2 linked regions of the Homo sapiens genome follow. The protein of the gene in region 1 interacts with the protein of each later gene in a pairwise test. Each region holds a gene or a part of one and is shown in the gene's direction. Other genes may lie near its edges.

The links.
Region 2: the proteins of KIF26B (region 1) and MX1 interact in a two-hybrid assay, tested with the Homo sapiens proteins (one study listed by BioGRID).

The regions. Positions count from the first base shown.
Region 1 is NC_000001.11:245,153,747-245,171,299, forward strand, and holds the start of KIF26B (kinesin-like protein KIF26B), read left to right. Parts: upstream 1-1,238; 5' UTR 1,239-1,678; coding exon 1,679-1,741; intron 1,742-2,535; coding exon 2,536-2,937; intron 2,938-17,553. UniProt on the Homo sapiens protein: Essential for embryonic kidney development. Plays an important role in the compact adhesion between mesenchymal cells adjacent to the ureteric buds, possibly by interacting with MYH10.
Region 2 is NC_000021.9:41,436,236-41,452,250, forward strand, and holds part of MX1 (interferon-induced GTP-binding protein Mx1), read left to right. Parts: intron 1-779; coding exon 780-917; intron 918-3,458; coding exon 3,459-3,613; intron 3,614-4,651; coding exon 4,652-4,790; intron 4,791-5,480; coding exon 5,481-5,679; intron 5,680-7,552; coding exon 7,553-7,631; intron 7,632-9,212; coding exon 9,213-9,335; intron 9,336-9,764; coding exon 9,765-9,906; intron 9,907-10,878; coding exon of another isoform or gene 10,879-11,057; exon of another isoform or gene 11,058-12,901; coding exon 12,902-13,060; intron 13,061-14,931; coding exon 14,932-15,008; intron 15,009-16,015.

The DNA.
Region 1 (17,553 bases):
CCAGAAAGCCCTGAACGTCCTTCGCGCCCTCGCCCACCCCCGGGCTGGGTCTCCCCGCGGGCGCGGAGATGCCGTTACACCCCACGTGATCCCTGCGCCCGGCCAGTCCTTCCAGAGGCGTCTCGCGGGGTGTTAATTAAAGGTCACAACAAAACAGACCTGCTGGCTCACCAGAAGAAATGTCCTCCCGTGAAATGAAAAATGACACCCCAGAGCAGCCACGTGTGGAGCCTGGCATACGCCGGCTTCCTGCGCTCCTGGGCGCTGCGCCGGGGGACTGGGGCGGGGGGCGATCGGAGAGGGAGCGATGACGGGGTGCTCCGGAGACCCCGCGGGGCCCAGGCGCAGGAAGAAACGGGCGGCGGGGGGCGAGGGGCCCGATCCCACGCAAGGAGAGGCCAAGGCCAGCTCGCGCCACACCCCCTCTCCAGGCCAGAGTCGTCCGCGTGCAGCGCGGCGAAGCCCTCAGTTTCCCCTGCCCGGCAGCGGCCCGCTGGGTCACCAGGCTCACCTGTCCCAGCCCCGGGCGGCTTAGTCCATCACAGACCGGGGCTCGGGCGGGCGGGGGACCAAGGGCCCTAGTCCTGCGGCTGCGGTCGGGGAGGGTGGCCCCCCGGCCGGCCCGGGGTCGGTAGGGCAATTCCAGAAAAGGTTTGCCCGGCAGCTCTCCGAGAACAAAGGGCGGGGGGAGGACCCGGCATGTTTGTGGACTTGTTTGTGACTCAATCCCTTTTGCACGGCGTTTCACAGACAGACCTGCAAGCCTTGTCAGGAAGAGAAAGAACTTGGGGGCGGGGGAGGCTGGGGCACCGCATTTCCGTCCAGCCACGCTCGCTCGCGCGGCCCCCGGGCTCCAGGCTCGCGCAGCGGCGTTTCATTAGAGCCCCGGGCCCGGGCCGCGCGCCAGGAACTTCCCCGCACGCGGCGAGATCGACGATCCCCCGCCCCCAGCCCCAGCCCGGCTCCAGGCCTCGCAATGTCAGGCACGAGCGCCGCCACATAAAATGGATCCCGGCCGGCGCGGCGAGGGCGGCAGGTTCCCGAGGCTCCTCCGCGCTGCGCCCGGGCGCACACGCGCGCTGTGACCGCCGACCGCTCCCGGGCCACGCGGAGCCGCCCCTCTCCCGGCCCTCGCGCAACTGTCAGGCGAAACGGGCCGGCGGATATTGGCTCGGCGACACGCCGAGGCTCCTCCCCGAGTCTGGATCTTTATATTTTGGGAGAATTTCTTTGAACTCAGTTACCAAGCTCGGTGAAGGAGACAAGTTCCCACAGCTGACTCGGCTCGGCTCTCCCACCTTCCCGGCAGCGGCCGCGAGCCCTGATTGTATCCCTCGCTTTCCTCGTGGGGGAGCACGGACTGACTTGGCTGAAGAAAATGCCAGTTCTGTGGATGTGGCCGTGACAAGAGGACGTGCGGCTGGAAGAGGCAGAAGGGGACGAGGAAAAGCATGCTTTGAAGAGAAGAATAAACCAGCGACCCCAACCCTTTCTGCAAATTGGTGCTATTACTTGTGGGATCCATTTGCTTTCATTCCCTCCCACCCCACCGCTGAAGAAACCTTGCCCTGAGGGCTGAGAGCCAGCCCCCTGCAGCCGGGGGACGCTTCTGGGTTGGAGGACCTTCTGGATGTAGCGTCGGTGGAACCTTTAGATACTCTCCTCTGGAAAAGCCACCATGAATTCGGTAGCTGGGAATAAAGAGAGGCTTGCGGTCTCCACCAGGGGCAAGAAATACGGGGTAAGTTGTGACGGTACGACGCGGAGACGCGTTACCAGACCCATCTCGGCGGAGGTCCCCCTTTCCCCGGGATCGTGCGGCCCCGGCCCCGAGCTCTCCCCCGCTGCAGAGGCGCCCCCGGGGCTGGCGGGGTTGTGAGTGCGCGGAGGCGGGTCGGCCGCGGGGACGCCCGCACGCTCGCCTCGCTCTCGGAATTTTTTCAGCCCTCTCGTTCCTTCCTTTCCACGCACCCGTAACTTTTGCCGCATTCCTGCACTTCTAGGCAGAGTGAAGCCGAAGGGGAGGGTTTCCCATGAATGCTGGGCAGTACCTCGGATCGTTTAGCTGGAGCCGTGAGAGCCTCTCGTTTACCTGCAGGATCCGGAGAGTTGGACCCCGTATGAATAAAAATCCTGAAATCACAGCCCTCCCCCTACCCCCCCCATAGGGTCTTCCAGGATTTTGTTCCCGGGATCTTGCTGGGATAGGTGCCGGCTTCAAAAGCGTGGGGCGCTGAACCTATGGATCCCCCCCGCCTTGCAGAAGCCGTGGAAACGGCCCCGAGCGAGTCCCCTTCCTGACCCCAGGAGGAGGCCACCGGGGACCAGCGCAGGGGTCACCTGGGCGGTGGGGACTCACTTAAGGACAATTAACGAGACAGACGGAGGGCAATTTGGCCGCAGGGCTTGGAGAGGTCCCCAACCGACTCCCGTGGGCGGTTCGAGCGGGTACTTGGTGGCGCACGTATGACCCAGCTCCTGGGCGCTGCAGCCCGCCGCCTTGCAGCCCCTGACACCGGCGTGTCTTCCCCGCAGGTGAATGAAGTCTGCTCGCCCACCAAGCCCGCAGCGCCCTTCTCCCCGGAAAGCTGGTACCGGAAAGCATACGAGGAGTCGCGCGCCGGCAGCCGGCCCACTCCTGAGGGCGCGGGCTCAGCGCTCGGCTCCTCGGGGACCCCGTCTCCCGGCTCGGGCACCTCGTCCCCGAGCTCGTTCACCGGCTCCCCGGGACCCGCCTCCCCCGGCATCGGCACTAGTTCGCCGGGCTCCTTGGGCGGCTCTCCGGGCTTCGGCACAGGCTCCCCGGGCTCCGGCAGCGGCGGCGGCTCCTCCCCCGGCTCGGACCGCGGCGTCTGGTGCGAGAACTGCAACGCCCGCCTGGTGGAGCTCAAGAGGCAGGCCCTGAGGTTGCTCCTCCCGGGGCCCTTCCCGGGCAAGGTGAGCGCCGCGCGGGGCTGGCTGGGGAGGCGCCGGGAGGGCGGGGCCGGGCCGCCACCCACAGCAGCTGCTCAGCCCGCCGCGACCTTGCGCGCCGGCTCCACGCGAGAGCCCCCGGCGGCGCTGGGGATGCTCCACACCTCACGGGGCTCTAGCACGCGGGGCGACCCATGCCCCTTCCTCAGCCAGGCCGCCCGGGGGGCAGGAGGACCGAGTCCCGAGCGCGAAGGGGCGCCCGTGGCCACAGGCCTCACGGCCCACGGGGGAGGCCCCCAGGTGGTCTCTCCTGCCGCCCCCTCCCAGCTCTCCCTGGCGGCTGCAGGCTGCGCTTTCGATGTTTCTCCCCACCCCCACCTGTGATCCTTTACAAAAATGTCAGCGGGAGCTGTAAAAGCAAGCTGATGCTCGGAGCTGGCATTTCCCACTGCCTGTTTGTGGTCCATCCTTTCCGCGGTTGCAGAAACAGAAACATACTCGAAAGCCAGCATTTTCCCCTTCTCAGTCTGTGTGTGTGTCTGAGGAAGATCCGGAGGCGGGTGGCTCTTCGGAGCAGTGCTCCCTCCTGGCCTGCTCCTGCGCCAAGCACACTGGTTCCTCCATAGCAACCCTGCCCGCAGTGTGTGACTGGCCCGAGCCCCCAGGGGATAGCAATGCGATTGTATTTGCACTGTTGGGTCCAAGTACTATCAAATGATCATATTTACTCGGCCACTTCAAAGAGTTTTTATCAGTGGTTAGAGAGCAATATCAAGGAAATAGAGTGGATTGCTGTAGAGGTTTTTGACACTGTTGGTTCAACGTCAATTTCTGGTTTATTATTTCCGTGACTTTAGAAATGAAATACTGTGATTTCGAGTAGGCGTTTAGGAATGACTGCGTCTGCTGGCCCAACCTGCGTATGCAGATACACACGTTGATGTTTTCATAGGCAAGGGTTAAATTCAACAAATGCCCACAGACGCTGTGAAACTTAAAATGGGGGAAATGACCACCAGGAGAATTGGTTTTATGAATGCAGAACTTATCTCAAGAATAATGAACTCGTGGATGGTTGTCAGTGTACCGTTTTTGTAGTTTGATACATCTGCCGTGACATCCCAAGGATACATCTCAAGGAATCAAAAAGCTTATTTCGCTCTTGCGTGCTAGACCTTCCGATTTAACACCGTTTCTTCATTCACAGATTTATTTGCTCTCGTGATCCTTCATCAATATTCATTGATTTTCTACTCCATCCGAGGCACTGTGTCAGGCACAGCAATGAAAATACCAGGTCCATTCATGCAGTCCTTGTCCACGTGGAGCTTAGATTCTAGTGGAGGATACAGATAACAACCACAAAATGCACAGTTCACAATGTCTTCACATTTGTGGAGGGAATGTAGGGTGCTGTGAGGTTGTTGAACTGGATGGGAGCATCTGATAAAGATGGAAGGACCTTGGTTCTTAAAGATCTAGTAGCTGATATTTGGCAGTCCTAATACGTTACAGCCTACCAAATTATTTTAGACCTTTCTTGAGGACCTATTCTTATAATAGGCTTATTGTGGCTTTGGGTGTTCCTATATGCAAAGGCCGATCAAAATACACTCTTCTCATTTAAAAAAAGAGGAGGGGAAGGAAAATCTACAGAGGAAACAAATGTTGAAACTCATACGCATCCATCATGTTTTATGGAGTCCTGTGACCAGCTGGAATCTTGTTTTTATAGAAACAGCCTGGAACATTCACTTACAGTGTCACGGGAGGCAGCTCAATATATTTGCCAATTTTATGTATGTGATAAGGTAAAACTCTTGTTGGTAAACTGATTGTATTGTCAGAGTGAGGTGATGGCCCCAGAAGAAACACTGGATTTGCTGAACCCCCATGCTCTACAATGACTTCGAGTGATCCAAGGACATCTAGAGAAGACCTGGCAGTCATGGGGGCAGTCACAGGGGATCACTTTAAGTGCATACGTGAATGTCACATAGTACCACAGTCGCCTGAGTTTTATATGTGAAGCAGCACAGTAAAGCGTGACATTTGGTGCAAGGGCATAGACAGGGCTCAGCCAGGAAGAAGGATGCTTTGCATCAGCTCATTGTTAGTAATGAGATGTGGGGCCTCAATTTTAACTACAAAATTTCTGCAAGCCTTTGTGAATAATAATTGTGTGTGTGTGTGTGTGTGTGTGTGTGTGTGGTGTGTGTTTTAAGCATTTGTACCTTGCATTTAGGTACAATTTCCATTATACCTTTAGCATTTGCAACCTTATAGCCAAACAGTTGCCATGTTCTCTGGTGTACCATGGATGGAGGCCATGTAACTTGGATAAGACTTTTCTTCTTCCCGGAGCAATATTAATGAACAAACTGTGGACCACTGTAGCCCTCAGGCACAGAAGGAGTTAAGTTTCATTAGAACAAGAGGTGTCACTGTGACTCCAACATGCAGTTCGCTCAGTTCGCTCTGAAGAGTAAGAGTCTGGAAGATAAAGACATGTTTTTGAGGAGTAATTAACAAAAATCATCTGTGTAATTTGCTTAAGATGCTTACCTGCATTTGGGAAATATTTTCTTAAATAGAGTGTTAAATTCTACTAGGTGGTATTAAATGTCTCCTAGGTAGATATTTAAAAGTCAAAAGCAGAATAGCACATCCAGGAACCTTAATATTTTAGGATGGATTTGGTTTTGGTTCTTCTTCACCACTGATTTACTTTGTGACATTGGGTAAATTAGTTTTCCTCTCTACTTTTTAACTTTCCTATTAATATCCTAAGGAAAAAAATGAATGAGACTATTAAAACGTCATTAAAATGATCCAAGGTAAGGTCTGAAAAGTGCTTTCATTCTTTAGAGAAAGATATGAGGGTTGATGATTATTAATGAGCTAAGATTCTGTTAGATTTATGTTTTACAGAATTTAAGGTTTTTCTTATAAGATATTACTCCTGTCAGTTTCTAATTTCATCTGTATATTTTCTAAACATGCTGCCATATGAGTTCTCACACTGTGCCTGTTGGTAGGTAGCAAGCCCTATTGAATCCCCCGTTCTGTCTTTGGAACAGTTGGTTAAGGAGGGGAGGTGAAGTAGTAGAGAGCCCATTCCGGGTATCTGGTTGGTTCCAGGAGCTAGTGCCTGGCTCTGGTGGCCTGAGAAGAACCATCTTATTCTGAGCACTCCAATGGAGGATAGGGCTTCATGGTAGAAAATGACATTATTTGAACGTAACGGAGTGGGTGATAGTGTTGGCTGAGGTAGGAAATAGGAGGAGACATGGAATTGGATGGAGCTCAGAGGGAAGGATGATCATGAGTTTGGTTTTCCATGCAGCGAGTCTGAGCTTTCTGGAAAGAGATGGAGGCAGATTTAATAATAAAACACTTTGTTTTTGGCTATCTCAAGACTGGCGTGTAGAAGTGACAGCTGTGAGCTCACATAGCTCTGCTGTTGATACTCTGTATTCATCCTTTCCGATAGCAACTTACCTGGTGAGTAGACGTTTGTGCTTGGTGGCAGATTGTAAAACACTCAGATTGACTTTTATTACCTTGATCAGTACAAAAAGTACTTACTGGGTTTATATCGTTTCTCTTTTGGTGCCGGTGAGTGGAAGTGGTCGGATAAAAGAATGTGGACGTGTAAAGTGTTGAGATTTTAAGTGAGAATGGCCCTTTTACCCACTGTAGCCTTCCAGTGTGTGAATACAAAACCATTTCATGTCCAATGGCAAGAGCATCTTTCCTGCTTTGTACACAGTCAGGGCACTGAGCCAGAAATAGGGGCCAAGGAACGAATTGCTCAATTTTGGGCTAGCCTAGATCATTCTGATATCTGTGACAGAACTTTTGAATGGACTGGGCAAGTCCTACGAAACAACAGCCCAACGAAATTCCCTGGAGTAAGCAGTAAAGCTCCAGGTTGGCAAAAGGTTATCAGACATCTGTTCATTTCCATATCAATAAAAGAAAATCTTTTATGTAAAAAAAAAAAAGTGCAGAACTATGTTCCTATCTGATTGTCTCTCAGTCAGATATTCTGAGTCCATTTATGCCCCAGAAATATCAGGAAGATTAGCCAGACATACTGAGAAGGGTGGCCAGGAATCACAGAGATGAAAGAAAGGAATGCGTCATAGGGGTTAAAAACGCCAAACGTGGACTCTAAATAGCCGGAGACCAAGTAAGTCTAGACTTGAGGAGATATAGATATCCCCACATGCATATTTCTGTATTTTGCCAGCTCCAAAAGAGGGGTATGGAAAAATAACTAGACGCAAAAAGTCCCCCAAAAGCCATCATAAAACATTTTATAGATAGGATAAAACAGACATTGCATTTCGAGTACTTATTAATTATAAGGGACTTCTAGCTGAAATCTTCTCTTTCTTCTAAGAACATGTGGCTATTTTCAAAAAGCTTCATTTGAGTCTTTCTCATATCAGAAGTATTTTAGATAAAGGAGCAGTTAGTAGATAATAGCAGTCATGAAAAAGTCCTACAGCATTTATCATTTGAAAATTTCTGAAACATTTTGGGAGTTTATAAAAACATTCCCAGGAGAGACATGTGAGCAGTAATCTCTTTTTAAGGCTTAGCAAGCTGTGGAATAATGGCAGTTCATTCTACCAGACTATTAATTGTGAAGCAACATGGTCAGTTTTTATAGTGACTTAATTCACTTTGCAAAAATCCCTGGCCTGCAATAATTCCTTCCACACCCATTGCAGATAGGATTACTACATTAGAAATGTGATTTTTAAATGGCTGAGGCTGGTAGTTTGTCAGCATTTGGAAGGATTAAGTCAATTAAAATGGAGGCAACATCAGTTGCCATTTGTTATTTGGCATTATATCACAGATTGTACCATGAGTGGGCCAACAATAGCGATGATAGTAATAATAATAATATGTAATAAATGGCTAACAACGATTGTCCTACATACCACGAACTACACTGAAACACACACACACATAATCTCATATATTAAAATGAAGATGAACGTGATTTTTTCTTTTTTACCCTGGAATTCCAAGTGCTTGATGTGGTTAAGATCATAGAAGGAAGCATGAAGAAAAAATATGCAAGGAACAGAGAAATCCAATCACACTTTCCCCTAGAAGCTGTTAAGGGTCCCTGTGAGTAGAACTGACTGAGTGAGAGGCACCGGCTCGAGATGGTTATTATTTTTCCTGGGCTCACAGATGAGAATTTTACTTCCAGTGAGTGGGGAGGTTGGGGGAAAGTATGTGAGACTGTCAGGTTCTGAGTTGAGGAATTGTCTTGGCTGGAATGCAAGGGGCGGGGGGAAGGAACCTCCTTATATTTACGTGCACCCATTGGAGACCCTGTTGTCATCCCTTCCTGAACAGAAAACCCTGCCCGAGGGCCCCGTCCTGACCTTCTGCGAGGAAGAGTTCTTCAGCCGGCCATTTCAGTGCCCCATCGGCAGGGCGGCCAGACCTCTGCTCTGTTTTGTCCTCAAAAAGATTGCAAATTGGCTGGTGTCTGGGAGGGTTCTTGGTCATTTTGCAGGAATACAAGACAAATTTCCTTTTTACCACTCTCTGCAGTCACAAGCTATTCATCAGCATCCTTTCTTTCCTGTTTCTCGTCTATGGTGTTATTGTGGCGAAGGAGCACTGTTGAGAATGTGCTCCCAATCGCTCTTTTATACCTATAGATGCACCCATCAGAAATATCTTTTTTTTTTTTTTTTTTTTTTTTTTTTGAGACGGAGTCTCGCTCTGTTGCCCAGGCTGGAGTACAGTGGCGTGATCTCGGCTCACTGCAACCTCTGCCTCCTGGATTCAAGCAATTCTCCTGCCTCAGCCTCCCGAGTAGCTGGGACTACAGGCGCCCGCCACCACGCCCAGCTAATTTTTGTATTTTTAGTAGAGATGGGGTTTCACCATATTGGTCAGGCTAGTCTCTATCTCTTGACCTTGTGATCCACCCGCCTTGGCCTCCCAAAGTGCTGGGATTACAGGCAGAAATATCTTATTTTAAAGTACATTCGTGTAGATGCAAAAGGACTGGGGATACACCTGTATTCCTAATGTACTTTTGAAATATTTGTCAAGATATCAACTCAGTTTGTATCCATCATTGGCTTACCATTGCCTTTGGAACTGCTCCAGAGCCTATCTGAGAAAATTGGAAATGAGTGATTGTTAAAAAGATGTTTGTCCACCTCCAGGTCTCAAAGAACTCACCTATGTTTTCTTCTAGTATTTAAATAGTGTCCTTTTTAATATTTAGATCTCTAATCCATTGAGAGATTATTTTGGTGCAAAATGAAAGATATAGATCAAATTTCATCTTTCTCTAAATGTCTATCCAGTTGTCCCCACTTTATTAAAACATTCTTCTTACTTGCAGACTTCTTCTTGTGAAAAAAAGAATTTATCTTTCTCACATTAATTGAAGATACCACCATTGTCATAAATCAAATTTTCAGTTGTATCTGGACCTATTACAGGATCTTCTAGAATGTTCTCACTCTGTTGTCCAGGCTGGGTTACAGTGGCACAATCTCGGCTCACTGCAACCTCCGCCTCCCAAGTTCAAGCAGTTCTCCCGCCTCAGTCTCACAAGTAGCTGGAAATACAGGCACGGACCACCATGCCCAGCTAATTTTTGTATTTTCAGTAGAAATGGGGTTTCACCATGTTGTCCAGGCTGGTCTTGAACTCCTGACCTCAAGTGATCTGCCTGCCTTGGCCTCCCAAAGTGCTGGGATTCCAGGTGTGAGCCACTGCGCTTGGCCCACACTATTTTAATTATGGAAGCTCTGTAGCATGTTTTCATGTTTGGCAGGGCTAGCTCTCTCTCCCTCAAATAGTGCCTTTCTTTTCTAGGAGTTTCCTTGCCTAACTCCAATTTTTTTTTTTGTTAGGACCGTGTTGAATGTATACATTAACCTGGGGGAATAGTTGGCATCTTTATGGTGTTGAATCTTTCCCAAGAACATGGAATACCTTTTCATTTGAACAAGTCTACTTTTTAGCAATTTTTAAGAGTTTCTTCATATAGGCTTTGCACATTTCTTGTTAAACTTTTTCTTAGGTATTATAGCTTTTGTTGCTATTGTAAATGGAGTCTTCACTTTCATTATCTCTTTTAATTGATAATTATTTATGTGAAGGATATTGATCTACATGTTTTATATCCCGTCGCCTTATTAAATTCTACTATATTCACTGATTTTTAAAAAATTGGTACTCTTGGATTTTCAAAAAATTTTGTCTTCTTCAAATACAGATATCATTACTCTCTTCCTTTGCTATTTTTATGCCTCTAAGTGTTTTCTCTTTTTTGTTACATTGGCTGGTACTCCTGACACAATGTTACATAATAGCGATATAGTGGGCATGTGTATATATTTTTTTCTATTAAGATGTTGGCTTTTGGACTGAGATCTGTCTATATTTTTTAAAGTTAAGTAAATATCCATCAATTCCTACTTTAGTGTTTTATTAGGAATGGGTATTATATTTTGCCAAATGTCTTTTCAGTATTTAGAGAGAGAATCATGCAATTTTTCTCCTTAGATTTGTTAATATTGTGAGTTATTATTATTGATTTTCTAATAGTGAACCATCCTTGTATTCCCATAATAAACCCCACTTGGCCACAGTGCATTTTGAAAGATATGCTTCTGGATCCAATTTGCTAATATTTCATTTATTGTTTTTGCTTTGATATTCATATGCCAATGAACATTTTTGATTCCTGTTTATGTGCCAGTTCTAGTACTATGCCACATTATAATCCAAATAGGAAAAATACTAAAATTCCTGCCCTGGAGCAACTCACAGTCTAGTGTCAGAGACAGGCAAGGAACGTGGCGAAGCGTAAGCGTTCCAGCCACAGGAAACGGCAGGCATAGGCCAGGAAGGGGTGATGCGTGCCCCCTACATATGGGGAACTGAAGTCGCACATGGTCACCATACACAGTATTTGTATGAGTGCGTGACAGGCTGGAAAGGAGGCAGATGGAGGATGAAAGGCCTTGTAGGCTATAGGCTGGACTTTATCCTGTAGGACGTGGGCAGCCATTGGAGGGCACTCATGAAGGGAGTGAAATGATCAGATATGCATTTAAGAAAGATTGCTGGCCAGGCACGGTGGCTCACGCCTGTAATCCCAGAACTTTGGGAGGCCAAGACGGGTGGATCACCTGAGGTCAGGAGTTCGAGACCAGCCTGGCCAACATGGTGAAACCCCGTCTCTACTAAAAATACAAAAATTAGCCGGGCGTGGTGGCCCACACCTGTAATCTCAGCTACTCGGGGCTGAGGCAGGAGAATCGCTTGAGCCCGGGAGGCGGAGGTTGTAGTGAGCCAAGATGATGCCACTGCACTCCAGCGTGGGTGACGGTGCGAGACTCCATCTTTAAAAAAAAAATAAAGATTGCTGTGAGAATGAGCAAGAAGATGGGTTGGAAGAGTGGTGTCACCGAGACCAGTTGGGAGGCCCCTTGCAGTGGCTTGAGTGAAGAATGACACAGACTGAACTAGGGTAGTACAGAGGGAAGGGAGAGGCAGCTCCGGCCTGACACATATCATATGTAGAAAACCCGCCATGGGGAGCTGCTGAGATACGGGGCCAGAGGGAGAAAAGATGATGCATTCTCCCAGGTTTCTGGCCAGGGAAAGTGTGTGGGTGGTGCTGCCAGTTATGGAGATGAAGAATACAGGCAGAGAAGGGGTTTTGTTATTGTGAGCCCAGTGTTCGAGGATGGCTGTGGATGTTAAATTGATTGGGGTCTCTAGAGCTTGAGGTGGAATGGTCCAATGGGCTCCTGTTGGCGCTCTAGAGCGGCTTCTGAGGTGGAGATATGGATCTGGGGGATGTCAGCGTAGAGAAGGTGATGGAATCCACAGACGGCATGAGCTCTCCACAGATGTGTGGGGTGAGACGACAGACAGCTGAACATGAAGTGGTGGAGACCATTGACATCGAAGGGACCAGTGGCCTGAGGAGCTAAGAAGACAGACCAAGAAGGAGGGACCAGAAAAGAGGGATGAAAAACCAGGAGAAGACAGTGTCATGGGAACTGAGGAAGGAGTGAGCTTCAGGGCATAGGGGTGACAAAAGGTCTGATGCCCTGGAGAGGTCAAGGAAGTAAGGACTGAGGTTTTCTTTGAACTGGCAAGGAGGAGGTCATTGGATGTCTTTGTTGGAAGAATTTCTGGTGCCCTGGAGAAAGCCAATGGCATTGTGTCCAGGAATAGATTGAGAGGTGAGGACATCTCAGGCAGCATTTGAGTTGCTGAGGACACTGAGATACAAGAGATCCACTTCTTGAGGCTCTTATTATCTTAAAATGAAGAACTACAATCAACAGACTTGCGTGCAAAACCAGGCTCCGTCACTTAGGGTGTGACCTTGGGCAAGCCTTGGTCTTTCTAAACGTGGTTATTCTCATCTCTACAGTGGGAGTCATGACAGAGCCCCACCAGGAGGATCGTGAGGATTAGGTGAAATTGTGAGATGCTAGTCAACCATCGCTTTCTGTTATTATTCCAGTGACTTTCCACAGGAAGTTGAATTTTATATAAGATTCCTACCCTCCTTCCTTCCCTCCTTCCTTCCCTCTTTCCTTCCTTTTTTCCTTCCTTCCTTCCATCTGACACGAAAATGGAGAAACAGCAGTCAGAGAAAATGAAAGCATTCAGTGCGTCTTTGTTTCTTCACCTCCAAGTGGATAAAGCATCTCATTCTTATTTATTCATTTGTAGAGTTGTCACCACAGAAAGTTTAAGGGAGCTCAGTGGATGTAAATAGCGACTCCTTTGGGTTGAGGTGCCATGAATATGGATTGAGAGTTTTTTGTCACAGATGGAAATCCCTTCTTTAAGCCCGGCCCCTCTCGTAGCCCCTCCAGGGAGACTTGCAGATGTGGCATTTGGCATTTCGGCTCCGGGGAATGAGGGAGAGCAGATTTCCTCCAGTGACTGCGCATGCGATGTGCAGATCTGAGCCGCACCAGGAATTTGGGCTTATCTGCCTTCCAATCCAGCTTTATCTGTCTCAGACGGTTTTCTTTGCAGTTGTACTTTGCTGATCCTATCACATCGATTCCAACCAGACCCCATGGGAAGTCTGGGAATAAAGAAGTCACCCTCCCCCACCAAGCAGGATATCCTGCACATACATCAGCTCTCAGGGCTGGAGGTGACCGTGGAGGAGAGGGATCCTGTGAGCTCTAATACAAAAAACCGAGACATTCTGAACGTTGCTATAGAGGTTAGCAAAGCAGAAGGCTCTGAGGGTAGAGTAAGTATTATTAATTTTTTAAATATGCAGAACGATAAATATGTCTTAAGTGTTATAGACCAGGTTACAGCTGAGGGACTATTTTGATTTTCCTTTTCTACTTATTGGAGTTTACGTTCAATACTGTTGCCAACCACAAAAAGTTATTGGAACAAATTTTAGCTCTCCACACAGCATGGTTCTAAAATCTTTGATGGTTCTTACGTGTAAACTTTCTTTTTATATAATTGTTTTTTTTTTTGCTTGAAAGCATGAGCTGCAAATAATAAATTAAAATCCGCTTTTCTATCACAGGGGTGACAAATAGAAACTTTTATTTTGATATGTCCTTATCTAAGTGATGTCTGAGGTCTGTATATGCTAATTCAGGATTTTTTTTCTGAGCTAACCTAGGAACCGATAGAACTTGAGATTTTTCTGCAGTGTAATTTTGTCTTTGAGTTGGCAGTGATGAGCAGCTACACTTCCCCATGAAACTCTATCATCGTATTTAGAGTGGTTGCTTTCTTTGGGGTTATAATCACTACTTCCCAACCCTTCCTCCACCTAACTGGTGGCTTCACACAAGAATGGGAGACTCACCTATTAACTGATTAGAAGCCAGCAATAACAACCAGCACCAAAAGCTGTCGAGCTATCTAACCAAATGGTTGTACAGAAAATAAACAGCTGAATTCAGGCAAACAACTGGAAGCAGCCACCATTGTTTAAAAAAAAAAATCACCTGCCCAGTTCAGTTGTGTAACTTTGCACAGCAGGGAGTCTCAGTCCTAAGCAGGTGGCAGAGTGTCTTCCCCATGGTACCATGGCTGGGAATTAGAGCATCAGGTGTCCTTTACCAAGACAGGCAGCGTGGTGATGGGGGCTGAGGGATAGATGGGAGGAGGATAGAAAGGAGAGGAATAAGAGGGGAGGAGGAGGAGGACGGATGAGAGAGAGGGCGAGGAAACAAAGAAATGGGTGGTATACGCATCCAAGGTTGTCTACAATCCCAGATATTTAGGTGAAAAAGGACTGTCCTTGGATCTGGGGACAGAGGTGCAGTCCTGCTTCCAGCACTGATAAGCATTATGATCTTGGGAGAATCACCTAGCTGGCCTGTGCTTGATTTTTCTTTTGTAATCTAAGAGCATGGTAGTCGGTGGGCTCTAAGCTTCTCCCAAGCCTGTGAGTCTCTGTGAAGCTGAGGCTTTGGGAGTCCACTCCGTGAACCCAGATTCCACAGGGATGTGCCTGGCAAAATCCAAGTGGGTTTCTGGCTGAAGCTGTTCTGTGGGCTGCCATGTTTGTGGGACATCTCATCTGCAGCCGCCGCAGCGACCTCCTTGTCCGTCCAGCCAAGGGGAGGGACCGGAAGCCAAGCGGAGGGGCCGGTAGCGCCGTCGTTGCTGATGCTTCTGCTTTTGGAATTCGGATCATAAACTGACAGGGTTCTTCCTGTTTCTTAATAAAGCTATTTGTTTTACTGTCTAATGTGTTTCTAAGCAGAAATAGACAAACAAAAGGACAATTGATTCTAGAAGAGAGATTTAGTATGGAGTATTTGAAGAAAAGTATTGCCTTAGAAATAAGGATGTTTTGTAGTTAATTTTACATTAAAAGTTCTGCCATATTGATTAGGATTTAGAAATAACATACGAAGAGTTCTTCCTGAGTAGCAGTATAGGAACACCAGAACTCTATAAACATTTTATTCATCATTCTTCATCTGATTTTTTTCCAAAATCTTTTTGCTCCCTTTGATTTCTCTCTTTTTTTCTGCTCTTTCAAATGCCTAGACAGAGCCATATTGATTAGGCCAGTATTTACATATCACATGCCCCTGACGTGGGTTTAATGCCCCGTAGTGTTTGATGCTGTGGTCTGGGAAAGAATGGAACAGGTAGCTGCCCGCTGAGTCAACGAGGCCCATGCAGTTATCATCGATTTTTATTTTTCTCTTTAATCATTTAGCCAAGGTTGCCTCTTTAAAATATCTACTTCCTGGGGGATGTTTCCCTGACTCTTATTTCAAATCTAATACTTTGTATTTGAGTCTAAACACAATTCAGGGAATATAGCTATTAAAAGCAGAACTTGATTTTGTTTAACTAGTCCAGAGCGCGTGATGGCTTTGGAGCAGAGTGGAGAACAGGCACAGAGGAGCACGAGCCCCAGGAACACCACTTGGTGCCCCTCCCTCGTCCTTCCACCGAGCTCTCTGCACGTATCTTACCAGGGCGTGAATGGAGCATTCTGCAGCCAGACACATCCAACCCACAGCAAACCCTCCATGCAAGCTTGCCTGTGTCCTCAGACATTCTACCCTTTATTTCTCCTCTTGTTCTTTGCCCCTAAGTTTGTCCATGCACTCGACTTTCTAACGGGCCATGGTGTGTGTGTGTGTGTGTGTGTGTGTGTGTGTGTGCGCGCAAGCACTTTGTGGAGGCCCTGAAGGCAGCATGTAAGGTGGTAACACGGTAGACATTCTGCCCCAGGTTTCAGACATTGTTAGGCTGAAGCTTTTATTGGAGGTCAAGGCAGCTAATAAAGTGGGCCGTGCAATTACAAGAGCATTCAGCAGAGAAGGATGGCTGACCCTCTCGGCAGGCTGAGAGCAGAGGAAGCGGTTGGCAGCTCCTAGTCCTCCCATGATGGCTTTACAAGCATTTTTTGCAGCCGGGGTGGTAAATGCGATACAAAGGCATGGTTTCAATATATCCAATGAGGCACTCTGCTTCCTGTGTGAGGCATCCACTTGGGGGAAGGAAGTTGCCCGGCTGTGGGCTTTTTGTGGTGGTGGTTTCTGCTAATTTACCTTTTTTATAGAGGGCTCATAATTATTAGGGATCCTCCATAATGCCCCTTTATGGTGGTCAGGAAGGAGATAACAAAATGATGCAGAGGTTTAGGAGGCTTCTCCAGGGTCACCCAGAAAACCTCTGGATTCTGAATCTCCTTCAAAGATTTAAGAGGATTTATTTATGCTGCTCTCTTGCCCATGTGGATCTCCTTGACACTACACTCCGTGAGCGTAGTTAATGTCCTGTCTTGTTCACTTTGTTTTTTGTTTGGTGCCTGTGTACCAAGTAGATTTCTGGTGTTTTGAAAAAAAAAATCACCCGTCCACTGCTGCATAACCAAAACGTCACTGGTGTGAAGGAAGAGGATGATAGAGGATGGGACGGTGGTGACAAATGGCGGGATGGGAGATGATGCCTGGGTGAGTCCTGGAAAGTGCCGTGATGCCATCCCACTGACATGGCCTCCTGTATTCCAGCAAAGAGTGAAATTCACAGGGAGCACAGAGTAAGAGCAGCGCCTTCACCTCGGTGGAGCTTAGTCTAGGCATTTATGGGTCGGCTGGTTTGAGGGTCCTTGCATTTCTTGTCAGTCAATACGTCCTTGTTTTGGCTAAGTCTCATGCCCTCATATCCACTTCTACCCTTGCAGAATAAAGACATGTGGGAATGCTCACTGGATGCTTACAATTGGTTCCAGGTGTTCCAGGGACGAAACTTATCAGAACCAAACATAGAGGGCAAATGTCTTAGCCAATTCATGCTGCTATAACAAAATACCACGAACTGGGTGGCTTATAAACAACAGAAATACTGATTTCTCACGGTTCTGGAGGCTGGGAATTCTGAGATCAAGGCCCCATCAGATTGAGTGTCTTGTGAGGTCTGCTTTTTGATTCATAGATGGCACTGTCTTGCTGTGTCCTCACGTAGTGGAAGGGACTGGCTAGCTCTCCAGGGTCTGTTTTGTAAGGGCAGGAATCCCAATTATGAGAGCTCTGCCTTCATGACCCAGTTTGCTCCCAAAGGCCCACCTCCTACTACCATCACTTTGGGGGTTAGGTTTCAACATGATTTTGGGGAGAACATAAGCGTTCAGTCTGTTGCAGCAAGCATGAGGTCACTTGTCTAGACACTGACCCCTCAGGCAGTGTTCATGTTTGGTTTAATTTTTCCCTTTATCTGGTAATTGATTCTGCACTGTCTCCATTATTTGGTGAGATGGTAACATGTGATTACATCCCAATGGAGTTGGGCATGAGAATAAGAAAGAAATCTCCCTTTAAAGGCTTTGGACTACCTTGGAGTTTGAAGAGAGTGGAGGAATGCAGTGAGCTGGTTTTGATCTTTTGGTGAAAGTGACAAGGAGGCAGGATGGTTTTTCCACGGACATTGACAGGGTCGTGCTGGTTCTCCCAAAGAGAAATAGAGTAGAGTTCATCACATTAGTTAAGAGCACCTCTTCAGCACATTATATCTCTTCAGCACATCGTTTAAGAGCATCGTCTTTAATAATTCTTACATGGGGCCCGCACGGTGGCTCACGCCTGTAATCCCAGCACT
Region 2 (16,015 bases), on another chromosome or scaffold:
ACAAGCATCTCTGCTGTCTCTTCCCCTTCTTCATAAGGGCACCAGTCATATTGGATTGGGGCCTACCCTAATGACCTCATTTAACCTTAATTGCCTCTTTAAAGGCCTTATCTTCAAATACAGTCCCATTAGGGGTTAGGGCTTCAACATAGGAATTTGGAGGGAACACCATTTCATAACGCTATCTCATTGCACATTTTTTTCACATAAGTCATATGTAATCTACAGTTTGAGGAGAATCTGAATAAACACATTTGGGTCCCCCAGTTCAGAACTATATCAGTGAGGTCTCAAAGAGTTCAGGCCTGGGACGGGTCTTGCAATACAGATCAGGTGTGGTAGGAAGAATATGGAAGGAGTTTACAGTAGGAGGACTGTTGTAAGGTGGCCTGGTAGCAGCAGGATGCTTTCCTAATGGGGGTAGAGTGTGTATGCTGGGGGGATAATGGAAGATGTTCGGATGAGTTTCGGGGGATTCCCAATGTGGTCTGCCACCTGAGCTGATGGCAGAACACTGGGATGAGGCAGGAAGCCAAAAGTGGTGGCTTTCAAGCGTTAGTAAGCAAAAACTCACCTGGGTTACATACTCAGAATGCATGTTCTTGAGGTCACCCAGACACAGTGCGATGTCCCCGCATATCAGAGGGTAAGACCAGAAAGTTTCCAGTTTTAAATGTCTCCCCATATGATTGTATAAAAGTTTGAGAACCATGGGCCTAAGGCGCTATGTAGGTCTTTTAAGAGCAAAGTGGAGCACTGATGTGGGCGTGGCCTCCTAGGGATCGTGACCAGATGCCCGCTGGTGCTGAAACTGAAGAAACTTGTGAACGAAGATAAGTGGAGAGGCAAGGTCAGTTACCAGGACTACGAGATTGAGATTTCGGATGCTTCAGAGGTAGAAAAGGAAATTAATAAAGGTGAGTACCCCCTGTTTGGATGCCTGGTCAAGCCTTCTGACATGCATGGGGTCTGTTTGTAACTGTTCATACTCCCACCTCCCTGGGCCTGTGCTGTCAGGACACCTTTCTCCTGCACATCAGGCCACGGTTCCTTCTACTTCTTTTACCTCATTATGACCAGCACGCTTGGATATCAGCATCTGATAGCAATCATTTATTTCTGGCCAGGCACAGTGGCTTGTGCCTGTAATCCCAGCTCTTTGGGAGGCTGACACGGGGGGATTGCTTGAGCCTAGGAGTTCAAGACCAGCCAGGGCAACATAGTGAGACCCCGTCTCTTAAAAAAAAAAAATTAAAATAGCTGGGCAGGGTGGCATGCACCTGTGGTCCCAGCTATTCAGGAGGCTGAGGTGGGAGAGTTGCTTGAGCCTGGGAAGTCAAGGCTGCAGTGAGCCGTGATCTTGCTACGGCACTCTAGCCTGACAACAGAGTGAGACCCTGTCTCAAAAACACATGTATTGCTTATTATGTAAGTATCTAGAATAATGTGAATTTTAAAATGTCCCCACATATGGATGATCTGTCCCTTATTCAAGGGCTTCCCTACTTAGATCTGGCAGGAAGAGGAGCCAGATATGGGGGTGAGGGAGCTCCTCCCCCTGTTCCTTTGTACAAGGAACTCCACATTGTGGACAGGATCGTCACTGAACCCCACTCAGAACCAGCACCCTTTTCTAAGAAAGAGGAGTGACTGTGTTTGCATAATCCCAGCTTAGGCTAATTCATGGCAGGCCTCCATAAATGCAAACCACAAGGATCAATTTGAAGTGTCTGCAAGGGGAAATGACACCAGCAGTGTAGACAGGGTAGAGTAGCTGACAAAGAACAGCCTCTGTGAGATGCATGGATAACATCTTCCTATCGACCTTCATGTTTTTCTGGCATGTCACATGTTTAAGTTTCATTCACACTGGGAAGGTACTGAAGAGACATGAACTAATGCCCAGCAGTAGGAAGGGACGGGTTTAGCATTTGTAAAGATGGAGCATTAATCACATTTGTTGACTGTTTAAAGAAAGATAAATAATGTTATTGACAAACCGTGATTTTGAATTAGTTGGGATTAGGTTGGCTGCTTGCAGCAGAAAACTCAAAATAACTGTGTGCCTTAGCCCTTGCTGTATAACAAACCCATCTTAAAACTAATGGCTTGACCACTTTTATTTCTCATGATTTGATGGACCAGCTGGGCAGTTCTTCTCTGGGCTAGCTGGGCTGGGGCTGATGGTCCAGGATGGCCCTTGGCTGGAGTGACCGGGCCTTCTGTCTGTGTGGTCTCTCACCCTCCAGAAGGCTAAGCTGGACTTATCAATGTGGGTGGAGGGGTTCCCAGCAGCAAGAGAGGGCAAGACCCGACATCTAACACCTTTCGGTCTCTCCTGACGTGGCACTGTGTAACATCCCCTTAGCCAGAGAAAGTCACGTGGCCAAGCCCAATTTCAAGGGACCGATTTTCTCTCTCTCCATGGAAGTGACGAAGGCACCCTGTAAAGTAGCGTGCATACAGGGATGGAAGGGAATGTGGATGCCATTGTGCCAGCAAGTTGCTGAGACAGCGGTCTAAACAATGTAGAGGCTTTCTGTCCCTCTCATATAAGTCTGAAGGCGGGCAGACCAGAGCTGATTGGGGATTCCAATGTCAGGAACCAAGATTTATTCTTCTCCCATTTCTTCATTGGGTGTGGCCTCTGTTTCCAAGGCCCCCCCGTGACTTAGTCAGCAAGTCCGCTTTGAAGCCAGCTGGACCATGGCAAGGGGCATATCTCTGCCTTTGTAAGCACACTTTCTGGAAGTTGCACATAACATTTTCACATGGCCCATTGGCCAGAACCCGATCTCATGACCACATGGCAGGTACATGGATATTGGGGGAACAATTAGTGGACCATAACCACTGATATTTCCTAAGTTCTAAATTGATATCAAACATCCCAAAAAGGCATTCTAGATTTAGAAAAGAGTAAAGTGGTGTTAGCCAACAATTTGATGAAACAAATTCATATCCTAAAATTCATTAAGGAGGAAGGAGCAAAATAAAATCTCTTAATGGGATGTTAACAGCCAGTGCTTATCTTAGCTAAAATAAGCACATTTCCCCATATAATTTTCCAGTTTATATTTTAGGCATTTCCATATATTTTTATTTGTTTTTATTTTGCTTGGTTGCTAATTTCCTACTGACATCAATGAGAAGGATTTAGGAATGCTACCAGGAAGAACTTCTTGCCTCCGCCCAGCTTTGGACTGGTCTAAGTGGGTGTCACTCATGGTGACGTTCTCACAAGGTCTCTCTACACACAGTGCTGGCCAACAGCAGGGAAAATACTGAGTTATCCTTTGAGATCTCTTTTATCCCAATCACAGAAAATTGAATCTGCTCCAAATATGCTTTTATCCATGACTCGCAGAGAGGAGAAGATGCTTTCAGAGTATTCACCATCATGAGATCCGTTTATCCTAAGCTCTGTTTGGGTTTGATTTTCCCTGTCTCTTTTCTAGCCCAGAATGCCATCGCCGGGGAAGGAATGGGAATCAGTCATGAGCTAATCACCCTGGAGATCAGCTCCCGAGATGTCCCGGATCTGACTCTAATAGACCTTCCTGGCATAACCAGAGTGGCTGTGGGCAATCAGCCTGCTGACATTGGGTATAAGGTCAGACTTCAGACCCATTCTGACCTTGGCCGTGGCGTGGGGATGGGGGAGTGGAGGGGTGGGAGGAGAAAGAGGGTACTGTATTAGAGTAACCGTGAGTCCAGAGCTGAGTTTTGGAGTTAGTATTTGGAGGTGTGAGTGGGGAATTTAGAGAGCCCGTTGGTCACAGTCTGTTCTGTCAAGTTGAATGGAAGCTTCTTTGGAGAAAGTGAGGCCAGTGGGCACAGTTGGAAATGTGTTCTGTGTATTTGTTTTATGTTTTATGCAATGACTTGTTTTTGGTTATATACATTTTGCAGCATATCTAAAGTGCTGTGTATTAGGAAGGGGTCTTATGTGGGAAGAGAGCATTAAAAATAAGTATAATGGGCCACACACAGTGGCTCAGTCCTATAATCCCAGCACTTTGGGAGGCTGAGGCAGGAGGATTCCTTGAGCCCAAGAGTTTGACAGAAACCTGAGCAACATAGTGAGACCCCCTTCTCTATAAAAGAAAGGTTAAAAAATTAGCCAGGTATGGTGGCGTGCACCTGTCAGCTACTAGGAGGATTGCTTGAACCAGGGAGGCTGTGATGAGCCGTGATTGTGCCACTGCACTCCAGCCTGGGCAACAGAGCAAGAATCTGTCTCAAAACAAAAAACAAAACAAAACAAGCAAGAAAGAAATAGGTATAATGATATTTTAGTATCAGTGAATCTCACTTTACAGATTAAAGATTTAGGGGTGAAGTGGGGTTTTTTGGCCACCATTTTTCATTGTGACCATCAGATCTGAGGTCTTAGGGGTTAATTATCTGAAACTTCATGGTTTTCCCTGAGCCTATAGCTCTGCTTCTGCCACAGATAATTTATTTTCTCATAATTCCAGCTTGGTACCTCCAGGGTTGTGTTTGTGGGTTCATTTCTCCAAAGTTACTTCTTTTGGGGGAAATACCCCTGGGACTCTTAGGGCCTAAAGCAAGTGCAAGGTCAGGACTTGTCTCACCTCTCACTTGCCTTTGCCATACTCACGAGTCACCTCCTCTCATTTCCTTACAGATCAAGACACTCATCAAGAAGTACATCCAGAGGCAGGAGACAATCAGCCTGGTGGTGGTCCCCAGTAATGTGGACATCGCCACCACAGAGGCTCTCAGCATGGCCCAGGAGGTGGACCCCGAGGGAGACAGGACCATCGGTGAGAGTGGGGGAGCCCCACTGTGCTCAGTGAGAATGGGGGAGCCCGCCTGTGCTCGGTGAGAATGGGGGAGCCCACCTGTGCTCGGTGAGAATGGGGGAGCCCGCCTGTGCTCGGTGAGAATGGGGGAGCCCGCCTGTGCTCGGTGGTCTGCCAGTGGGCAAGCGTCCCTCCAGTCTCCATGGGCTTTGCTCAGTGGGGACCTGCCTCCACTAAGACCTGCTAAGGGAGCAGGTTTGGTGCCCACCAAGGCCAAGTGAAATGAGCTGCTTTTGACTCTCACTGGCTAGGTTGCCTTGTAAGCCTTATCTACTTGCTCAGAAAGGCACAGTGGGCTCGGAAGCAGGTCAAACTCAGGAGGCACATGGTACTCATTAAGAATGCATTTGAGATGGGATGTCCATAACTCAAGGGATAAACAAAACGTGGCGTGTTCTACAGTGGACCCGGGTGAAGGAGCTTGGGGAGAGCCACATGCTGTTCTGGGAGGCATCCCTGCCTTCACGCGGCTTGTCGTGGAGTTCTTTTCTGGAGCGGGGCTCCACTGCCCCCATGGTTCTGCAGGGGCTATGGCCTGTCCTCAAGCAAGGATGGGAGGAAACCCTGGGAGGCCGGGGGCGTGAGCAGTTGTTCGTTCACCTCTGCCTCGTGACTGAGCACGTTCTCTCCCCAAATACATCTGGCTCGCAGGAATCTTGACGAAGCCTGATCTGGTGGACAAAGGAACTGAAGACAAGGTTGTGGACGTGGTGCGGAACCTCGTGTTCCACCTGAAGAAGGGTTACATGATTGTCAAGTGCCGGGGCCAGCAGGAGATCCAGGACCAGCTGAGCCTGTCCGAAGCCCTGCAGAGAGAGAAGATCTTCTTTGAGAACCACCCATATTTCAGGTGCGCTTGCCTGGGTTTCATCATGGATCAGTCCAAGCCCAGGATGTCAGGCCTTCCAGGGGACAGTGGCAGCCGTCCCACAGATGTGTGGAGTGTGTGTGTGTGTGTGTGCGTGTGTGTGTGTGCGCGTGTGTGTGTGACTATGCTTGTTCCCCAACAAGGACTATGGAATTCACCTAGAAGAATAGGAAGGGGATTACAAAATACTGCCAAGAAAAAAAAAACTAAAAACCAATCAAAATAGGGAGAGAACAATGTACAATAATTTACGTAGCATGGTGCTGGAACCATATTTTATAAAAACATAAATAGAAGAGAATAGGAAAAAAGTAGAAAGCCCAGAAATAGACCTAGATATATATATTTGACACATGATAAATGCAGCATTTCAAATCAAATAGTGGACTATATCAGCTTGAGTATCTATTAGTGGTGTTAGGATAATTAATATTTGGGAAAAAACTAAAATACTGCCCTTACTTATCTCATTATACCAAAATAGTTAAAGTTTAAAGTTAAATATTAAGAGGAAGCAATAAGCATCTCAGAAGAAAGGTAGGTGAATAGTTTATAAGATTTTTCTATCCCTCCTACCAAAAGTGACATTTTTTAAAAGGAAAAGACTGACAAATTGGTAAGATTTAAAATGATGAGACTATGTAGAGTTGTAAACATTCTTACATTCAGTTCTCCCAGAAGCCTACAGAGAGCCATTACTCAGAATTCCAGGAATATCAAATGGAAACTTACATCCTGTTCTGCACATTCACAATTGCCAGAAGATGAGATGATTCAGTGTCCATTGATGGATGGATGCAGAAAGCAATGTGGTCTGTACAAAAACATGGAATACTTTCAGCCTTAGAAAGGAAAGACATTCTGACACATGCTACAACATGGATGAAGCTTGGGAACATTCTACTAAGTGAAAGAACCCAGTCGTAAGAGGACGGATACTGTCTGATTCCACTTAGCTGAGGTCCCTGGAGTAGTCAGATTCATAGAGACAGAAAGAATGATGGGCACCAGGGGCTGGGAGAGAGAGAATGGGCAGGTAGTGTTTAATGGGGCCATTGTTTCAGTTTGGGAATATGAAAAGTTCTGAAGACAGACAGTGGTGATGGTTGCATAATAGTGTGAATGTACTTAATGCCACTCAAGTGTACTCTTAAAGATGGTTAAATGGTCAATTTTATATGTAGTTTACCACAATTTAGAAAAATTGACAGAGAAACTGAAGCTTAGGTATGAGTATACTCACAAAAAGGCACAGAAACTCATGCTTCACTGCTGCCTTTATCCTAAAATGTCCTATAAAATGTGGGAAACCCTGTAATAACTCACTCTGTGAGCACAAATTTGGATCGAGTGAGAAGATACTTGACTTCCTTCCTCCAGGCAGCCCATGGTTTAAGTTTTTATCTTGGACAAGATATCTTGTGTCTCTTCTCCTCAGTGTTCTGCTACCCATTTATCTCAATATGCTTCAATGTATTTGTATGAAGATATGTCTGTATCCATTATGATCACCTACACATATTACACATAGAAGGGGGTATGTGTTATAAAAACATATCTATACATGTCTGTGTATTTTTGTGATGACCAAGTCTATAGTCAGACACCATGATACACATTTATTATATCAGCTGGAAGAGCTCATTCCATATCATTGTGGAAATATCCTAGATTGCTAAAATTCAGTCATAATCCTATTCAATCCAGTTCTGAGTATTTGTTGGGTACCAACTGCAAGACATTCCATCCAGTTGTAAGCAACTGAAATTTGCCTTGACTTTCCCCAACAGCAAAAAGGCAGACATGCGTGTTCTGGCTACATCAAGGTGGAAATCGGTCCTGTGTTCTCTTCTAGGGATCTGCTGGAGGAAGGAAAGGCCACGGTTCCCTGCCTGGCAGAAAAACTTACCAGCGAGCTCATCACACATATCTGTGTAAGCACGGGCAGAGCTGTGGGTTCTCTAAAAAGAATACTACGACCGCAGAGCTGAACCTTGCTGGCTTCTTAAACATCACTGTACACACAGATCTTCTGAGGATCTTGTTAAGATGCAGTTTCAGATTCTGTGGGTCTGGAGTGGGGCCTAGAATTCTGCATTTCCAGCAAGCCCCCAGACAATGTGGATATTCCTTTTCAGGGGACCACAGTCAGGGGGAATGCTGATAGACTATATCTACTGGGCCAAAATAAAAATTAAAATCTTATGCACAAGCTACTAACTCTTCCTTTCTCATTGACAACCACTATTATAATGTCTTAGTCATTCTAATGAACATATTTTTTAACTTCTAAAAGCTTTGTAAAAGCTCTCTGTGGTTCTTTTTAAAAGTCTGCCTGAATATAGTGTCTTCCTTTTTCAAATTTTCTTTTCTTTTCTTTTCTTTCTTTTTTTTTTTTTTTTTTTTTTTTTTGAGACAGAGTCTCACTCTGTTGCCCAGGCTGGAGTGCAGTGGTGTGATCTCAGCTCACTGCAACCTCTGCCTCCTGGGTTCAAGCAATTCTCCTACCTCAGCCTCCTGAGTAGCTGGGATTACAGGTGCCCACCACCATGCCTGGCTAATTTTTGTATTTTTAGTAGAGACAGGGTTTCACCATGTTGACCAGACTGGCCTTTTTCAAATTTTCAACTCAGCACCAGAGTGCAAGGTCTTCCACGTGGTCCCCAGGAATGCGGGTGCATAACAGGGTTGTTTCCAGCCGACCATGATGAGTGCAGAGCTCTCTGGGGTCCCACTGTATGCAGAAAGAGGATGCTTCCTTATTAGATTCCCCACCTCGAGCAAGCCCATGGGGATTGATTTTTTGCCTCTGCACCAAGTCAGGTTCATAAGTTCCCGTTCGAATTTTCTTACCTAGACAGATGCCCTTGTGGCTGAGCCGGGCTTCATTGCTGCCTTCTCCTTGAGCCCCTGCCTGGCCACTGTTACTGGGGCTGGCCTCTGACTACCCCTCACTAACTTGTGAGTCCACCGATACATTTAAAGGTGCAGCTTTCACATGTCAGCTGGCATTTTTAGATGTTTGCCGTGGAAGGGTGAGCCAGCATATGGCGTCAACCGTATTGTTAAAAACATAAGTCTCTGATCACTTTTTATTGATTGCAAGCAACATAAAAGTTGTTGAATCTCAAATTGCTCCAAATGCCACTTTTTCAGAACCTACTAGACAAGTGGATCTCTCCAGTCTCCCTCCAGAGAGTTTACCTAATATGACCACAGAGGAACTGCTCCCGGGTCACTCTGCCGGGGCCTAGGACCCATGCACAGTGGGTGCCACAGTGCTGCTCATGAGGCTGCTGTCGCAGGAGTGGGGAAGGGGGAAGACCTGGGCAGAAAACAGTGCCCCCAGTGTGTGCCCCCCTGCACCTCCCCCGGGTCTGGAAAAGCTTCCTTTTAGAGGAAGCCAGGAAGTCAAATGGCCCACACAACTCCTCTGCAGAGGGAGGCCCGGGACCTCCTTTTCATTCTCTGTTCATCTTTACACATTTCCATTATTTTCTCTCCATTTTCCTCAGAAATCTCTGCCCCTGTTAGAAAATCAAATCAAGGAGACTCACCAGAGAATAACAGAGGAGCTACAAAAGTATGGTGTCGACATACCGGAAGACGAAAATGAAAAAATGTTCTTCCTGATAGATGTGAGTGTTGCCAGCTGCATGGAGCTGGAGAAGCACATGTCATGGTCAAAAAAGGGACCCTGGGCCTTATGCACTTCCTTCTTCACTCCCCCAAGGCTGATCCAAAGACATCTGGCCCGTAGCACTCAAAGGGTGGACAGGGCTGAGGGAGGCAGGGCAGGGAGTGCAGATGTGGGGGTGGAGTCAGCAGCGAGGGATGCTCAGGCTGCGTTGTGCCTACTCTGTCACGAGCATCACCCAGATCCCTAAGGCAGTAAGGGGTGGGATAGGATTTTCTAGTGCCAAAACCTCTTCTTTCCCCTGATCCACAGTGTCCCATAAGAAAGCAAAGAATGACTCCCCACCCTCCACATAGGCACGGCCTCCAAATGACCTTGACACTTGGATTTGAAGTCTATCCACTTATACTGATGTTTTTCTTCTTGACAGAAAGTTAATGCCTTTAATCAGGACATCACTGCTCTCATGCAAGGAGAGGAAACTGTAGGGGAGGAAGACATTCGGCTGTTTACCAGACTCCGACACGAGTTCCACAAATGGAGTACAATAATTGAAAACAATTTTCAAGAAGGTGAGTGTCTTAGTCCCTTCTTTTGGGCTGCTACAACCGAATACCTGAGACTGGGTCATTTATAAACAGTAGAAACTTATTGCTCATTGTTCTGGAGGTGAGAAATCTATTCTTAAGGAATCAGGAAATTTGGTGTCTGGTGAGAGCTTGTTCTCTGCTTCAAAGATGGCACCTTCTAGCTGTGTCCTCTCATGGGATAAGGGACGAACAAGCTTCCTCGGACCTCTTTTTTACAGGGGTACCACAGGCATACCTCAGAGATATTGTGGGTTCAGTTCCAGACAAAAAGAATATTGCAATAATGCAAGTCATATAAACTTCTTGGTTCCTGGTGCATAAACAGTTCATTTATGCCCTACTGCAGTCTATTAAGTATGTAATAGCATTAGGCCTAAAAAATATGTATGTACCTTAGTTTAAAACACCTTATTGCTAAAAAATTGCTGGTACAGAAACAAAAAGTGAGCATGTGCTACTGGAAAAAAATGGTGCTGATTTGCTTGACATGGGATTGCCACAGACTTTCAATTTGTAAAAAATACGGTATCAGTGAAGTGCAATAAAACAAGATATGCCTGGAATGCCATTATGCGGGCAGAGTGCTCATAACCCAATCCTTCCTAAAGGTCTCCTCTGTTGATACCATCACACTGGGGATTAAGTTTCAACATAGGAATTTTTAGGGGACACCAACATGTAGACCATAGCAATGAGTCAATACCGTGGTAAACCTGATACGTTGGCTTAAGACAGAGAAGAGTGGGGCAGTTGGGGAGGATGGTCAGGATAAGGAGCTAGTGACAACTAAAGCCATGTTTGCTCTCTTCTATATCACTGAACCCAAATGACCATCCACTGATGAATTGATAAACCAACTGGCTTGTGTCTGTGTGTAGCGGTTGGCTTTGGCTGTCATAACAAAGTACCACAGACTTGGGGGGGCTTAAACAGTAGAAATTTATTTTCTTACAGTTCTGGAGGCTGGAAGTCCAAGATCAAGATGTTGGTGGAGCTGGTTCCTTCTAAGGCCTCTCTCCTTGCCTTGCAGATGGCCTCTTCTCATTGGGTCCTCATGTGGTTGTCCCTCAGTGTGTGTGTCCTCATCTCCTCCCACAAGGACACTAGGCAGATGGGATGAGGGCCCACCCTAGTGACCTGATTTCAATTTAATTACCTCTTTGCCTGTCTCCAAACACAGTCAGATTCTGAGTTTCTGAGGGTTAGGACTTCAACATTGGAGTTTGAAGAGGTCACAACTCAAGCTCAGCCCGTAACACCAAGTCCTGGAATATTTCCAGCCACAGACAGGCACAGAGTGCTGGTCCACAGCACCCCATGGATGAACCTTGAAAATGTCATGCTGAGTGAAAGAAGCCAGCCACAAAGGCCACACGGTCTATGATTCCATTGATAGAAAATGGCTAGAACAGGCAAACCCAGGCAGGCAGAAAGCAGAATAGTGGCTGCCAGGGGCTGGGGAGGGAAAAGTGGGAAGTTATCACTGATGGGTGATGGATGTGGGGTTTGGGAGTTATGTCTGGGGATGGTCGCACAACTTTGTGAATATACTAAAATTCACTCACCCATACACTTTTTTTTTTCTTTTTCTTTGGAGACAGGGTCTCACTCTGTTGCCCAGGCTGGGGTGCAGTGGCTCAGTCTCGGCTCACTGCACCCTCTGCCTCCCAGATTCAAGCGATTCTCCTGCTTCAGCCTCCACCTCCCTAGTAGCTGGGATTATAGGCACCTGTCTAATTTTTGTATTTTTAGTAGAGATGGGGTTTCACCATGTTGGCCAGGCTGGTCTCGACCTCCTGACCTCAGGTGATCACTGGCCTCAGCCTCCCAGAGTGTTGGGATTACGGGCGTGAGCCACTGTGCCTGGCCTGAACCATATATTTTTAACAGAGTGAATGTTATACTATGTAAATGACATCTCAATTAGAAAAATCCTTATGGGAAAATATTTCCTGACTAAAAAAAGTGTTCTAGATTACCACTCAAAAAGGAACTCAAACCCTCTGAACTTCTGATGGGGCTAACTCTCTCTAGTGTGGATTGTTGGGAGTACAAATCATTCCAAAAGTTTAAAGAAAAATGCAGCATCTTACACAGTGAACAGTGCTACTGTATCACATTCATACAAGTTGATGTGCCTGGTTTACTCTGTTATCCCATTTGACTTGTAAACACTTTCTACACATGGCAATACTTTCGACACATGAATATGTGATGTATTGTTAATTCCAGAAAGTGTTCATGCTCATTTCTAATGGGCATGCAGTTGAGGGCAAGGAGTGTATTATGGTACAATTTCTTTGGTAAAACTAAAATTGGATTCACAAAACTTCATACTCGAGTACGTTTTTAAGAAGGGGTCTTGGCCGGGCACGGTGGCTCACGCCTGTAATCCCAGCACTTTGGGAGGCCGAGGCAGGTGGATCATGAGGTCAGGAAATTGAGACCATCCTGGCTAACACGGTGAAACCCCGTCTCTACTAAAAATACAAAAAAATTAGCCGGGCGTGGTGGCGGGTACCTGTAGTCCCAGCTACTTGGGAGGCTGAGGCAGAAGAATGGCGTGAACCCGGGAGGCAGAGCTTGCAGTGAGCTGAGATCACGCCACTGCACTCCAGCCTGGGTGACAGAGCGAGACTCTGTCACAAACAAACAAATGAAAAAAAAGGGTCTTACTCGAAGTTTCTGCGTATGTGGGTTCCTGGCATCGTACCTGGCTCTGCACTCCCCTTCCTGAGATGACTAAGGAAAATTATCTTCAGATCTGGTTTTGTGTGTGTGTGTGTGTGTGTGTGTGTGTGTGTGTGTGTGTGTGTGTGTAATCCCTGGATATTTTTAGTTTACCAGTTAGATTTGATTTGATACCACTTTTTCTTGCCATTTATATTTTCAGAAAATTTAGAATGGTATTGTGTTTAGAAAAATGTGCAAGATTATTTTTGTAAAATAATTTAGAGGGTTTTTTTTCCTGCTATAGGCCATAAAATTTTGAGTAGAAAAATCCAGAAATTTGAAAATCAGTATCGTGGTAGAGAGCTGCCAGGCTTTGTGAATTACAGGACATTTGAGACAATCGTGAAACAGCAAATCAAGGCACTGGAAGAGCCGGCTGTGGATATGCTACACACCGTGACGGGTGAGTGCTCAGTTTCACCTCTGAGCATTGATTTCTAAAGAAAGGAAAGGTTCGAACCAAAGCCAGCACCAAACTTCAGCACTTTCCTCCTGGGGTGCATCCCACACCAACGAGCAAACCTCTCATTCTCCAGATGCCAAGTTGGTATTCAACAATTCAATTCAATTCTGACACTAACTACCCTCAGTCAGTGTGGACCCCATAGCTTAAGGGCTCAGTTCCACAACACTGGCCCCAACTACAAATGCCGGTCACAAGTCCCAGACCTCCTATTCTTCTGATGGACTGTTTATAAATCAAGGTTCTTGCGACCCATTCCTCAGGTCAACCAAGAACTCTGGAACACACTTCACTGACATTTACTGGTCTATTAGAAAGGATTTGATAAGGGGCACAAATGAAGCTGTTGGAGAGGCACATAGTAGGGGCCTGAACACAGAAGCTTCTGTCCCCACGGGGTTGGGGGCACCATCCTCATGGCACAGAGATGTGGTCATCAACCAGGGAGCTCTTGGAACCTCACCGCGGAGAAGGTTTTATGGAGGCCTCATCATGAAGGCATGATGGAGGATTGACTCAATCTCCAGGCCCTCCCTCCTCTGTGGAGCTGGAAGTTCTAAGTTTCTAGCCAAGGCTTGGTCTTTCTAGTGCCCGGCCCCAATCCTGAAGCTATGTAGGGGCCCACCAGGCATCATCTCTTCAAAACACGAGATACTCCTAAGGCTGGACATTCCAAGAGATGTAGGGGCTCTATGTTAGGAAATGGGGACAAAGACAAAATATTTATATTTTTCCTATCACACCACACCTCCCCCCTGCTCCACTGCTATGCTGGCTTCACACTCAAAATCGGCTGTTTATTTGAAATCTCCGAGGAGTAAAGCCAATGGTTCCATAACTGCACGTGTAGATGTGTTTGGAACCTTTTGGAGTGCTGTAGGAATCTAGGTGTGTCACGGATAGGTAGGAAACTAGATCCTACTGTGGATCCACTCCCTTCTTGAAATGCTTTGCTTTCTTGGTTTTCCAGGTATTAAATCTCTATTCTTCATCCTCTCCTTGACTGACAGTATCCTTACTCACACTTCAGCTGCCTCATCTTAGCAGTAATTAATAATCACTCATGGATCCATGAACTAAGGAGCTGGAGATAGCCTCAGAACAGCTCATTCAGAGGTGTATTTCCAGTAAAATTGACCTTTTAGCCCTGATAATCATATACCAAAACCTGCAATCATGTTGTTTTGGTCCATTGTAGACTCTTAACTCATTCCAGAGGAAAGTTTATAATACTTAGAGCCTTATAGTCATAAAAATCAACATAGATATACCTATTTCTTTTTCAGAAATGTATGACATGGAGATCAATAAGAGGTTTTCAATCATAAAGATACTATACCTTGTATTACAATAAAATTCTGTGAGGAAGTAGAATAGAAATGAGTTTCAAAAATAAAAGATAAATAATATAAATTTTTTAATCTAAGAGCTTGTTCTTGTATTTTTTTCAAATGGATAATGTAGACACTCAAATTCCATTGATATATTTAAGAGTGATTTGACTTATATTAAGAGTTGTATTATAAAATATTAATATTTATAATTTAAAAGAAATTACATTCTTTGCAGCTATTTAGGATAAAAAGTTTAAATATCAAATAAATGTATGCCAGGGGTCATTTGCTTTTAAGATTCTTCCAGCAAATTATTAAGCAAAAAGAGCATGCCTTGCTTTTTCATGGTAAAGAGAAGAAGGGAGCGGGGAGAGGGGAAACTTTACTTCATACCATTTGATCCTCATATTTTTTTGCATCTTAAGAAGAGAACAAATGATCCTACCAATATTGAACTATTTTTCTCTCTTTGATTAGATATGGTCCGGCTTGCTTTCACAGATGTTTCGATAAAAAATTTTGAAGAGTTTTTTAACCTCCACAGAACCGCCAAGGTAAAACCAACCATGTGTTGTTTAAAAAAAAAAAAGAAAAGAAATTAAGCTTGACACTAGAAAATAGATTTCTTGGATGAGGATTATTTCAACTTTATTGTATACTTTTAGAACAGCAAATAACATCACTCACTAGTGCTTCTTCTGATGTTACCGGTGATGTCTGGTTAAAAGCAATAAAGGAGGGAGTGCTTAAACGCACAGAACAAGAGATCCACAGTTAGCGGAGAAGATTATCACATCTAAGGGCAATGGCTCCAAATCCAGAAACTCACTGAGGAAACTACATATAAAAATAGAATATTTCTGGCCCGAGTGGGCATGATGAGCCTGTAATCCCAGCACTTTGGGAGGCTGAGGCCGGTAGATGACTTAAAGCCAGGAGTTTGAGACCAGCCTGGCCCACATGGCAAAACCCCATCTCTACTAAAAATACAAAAAAGTAGCTGGACGTGGTGGTGCATGCCTGTAATCCCAGCTACTTGGGAGGCTGACACTTTAGAATTGATTGAGCCCAGGAGGTGGAAGTTGCAGTGAGCCAACATTGCATCACTGCACTCTAGCCTAGGCGATGGAGCGAGACCCCGTCTCAAAAAAAAAAAAAAAAACAAACAAAAAAACTTTCCATCCAGAGTGAGGAAAGAGCCTACAGGAAATGAGCCTGGGGGACAGACTGGGCCAAGAGACCAGACTTAGCCACTCTTAGAAATAGGTGTCCCCGGCACAGATGAGGAGCCTGGCCCCATGATTCACCAGCTGGAGGCCTTGGGATGTGCCACTTCCAGCCTGTGCCCCTGACTCCTCATTCATAAAAGAAGACTGATAAGGCCTTCCTCAGAAGGTTGAGATGGACGTGGAGTAAGATGTTTAGGATGCACCTGCCACTGTGCACTGTGCCTCTCCTCAAGGCCTGGAGGGTCCAGGGGTGAAGTTTCTCCTCCTCAGGTTTTGGCAACCAGTTTCTCTAAACCCCGGGAACATAAAACATAATTTTCTGACTTAAACAT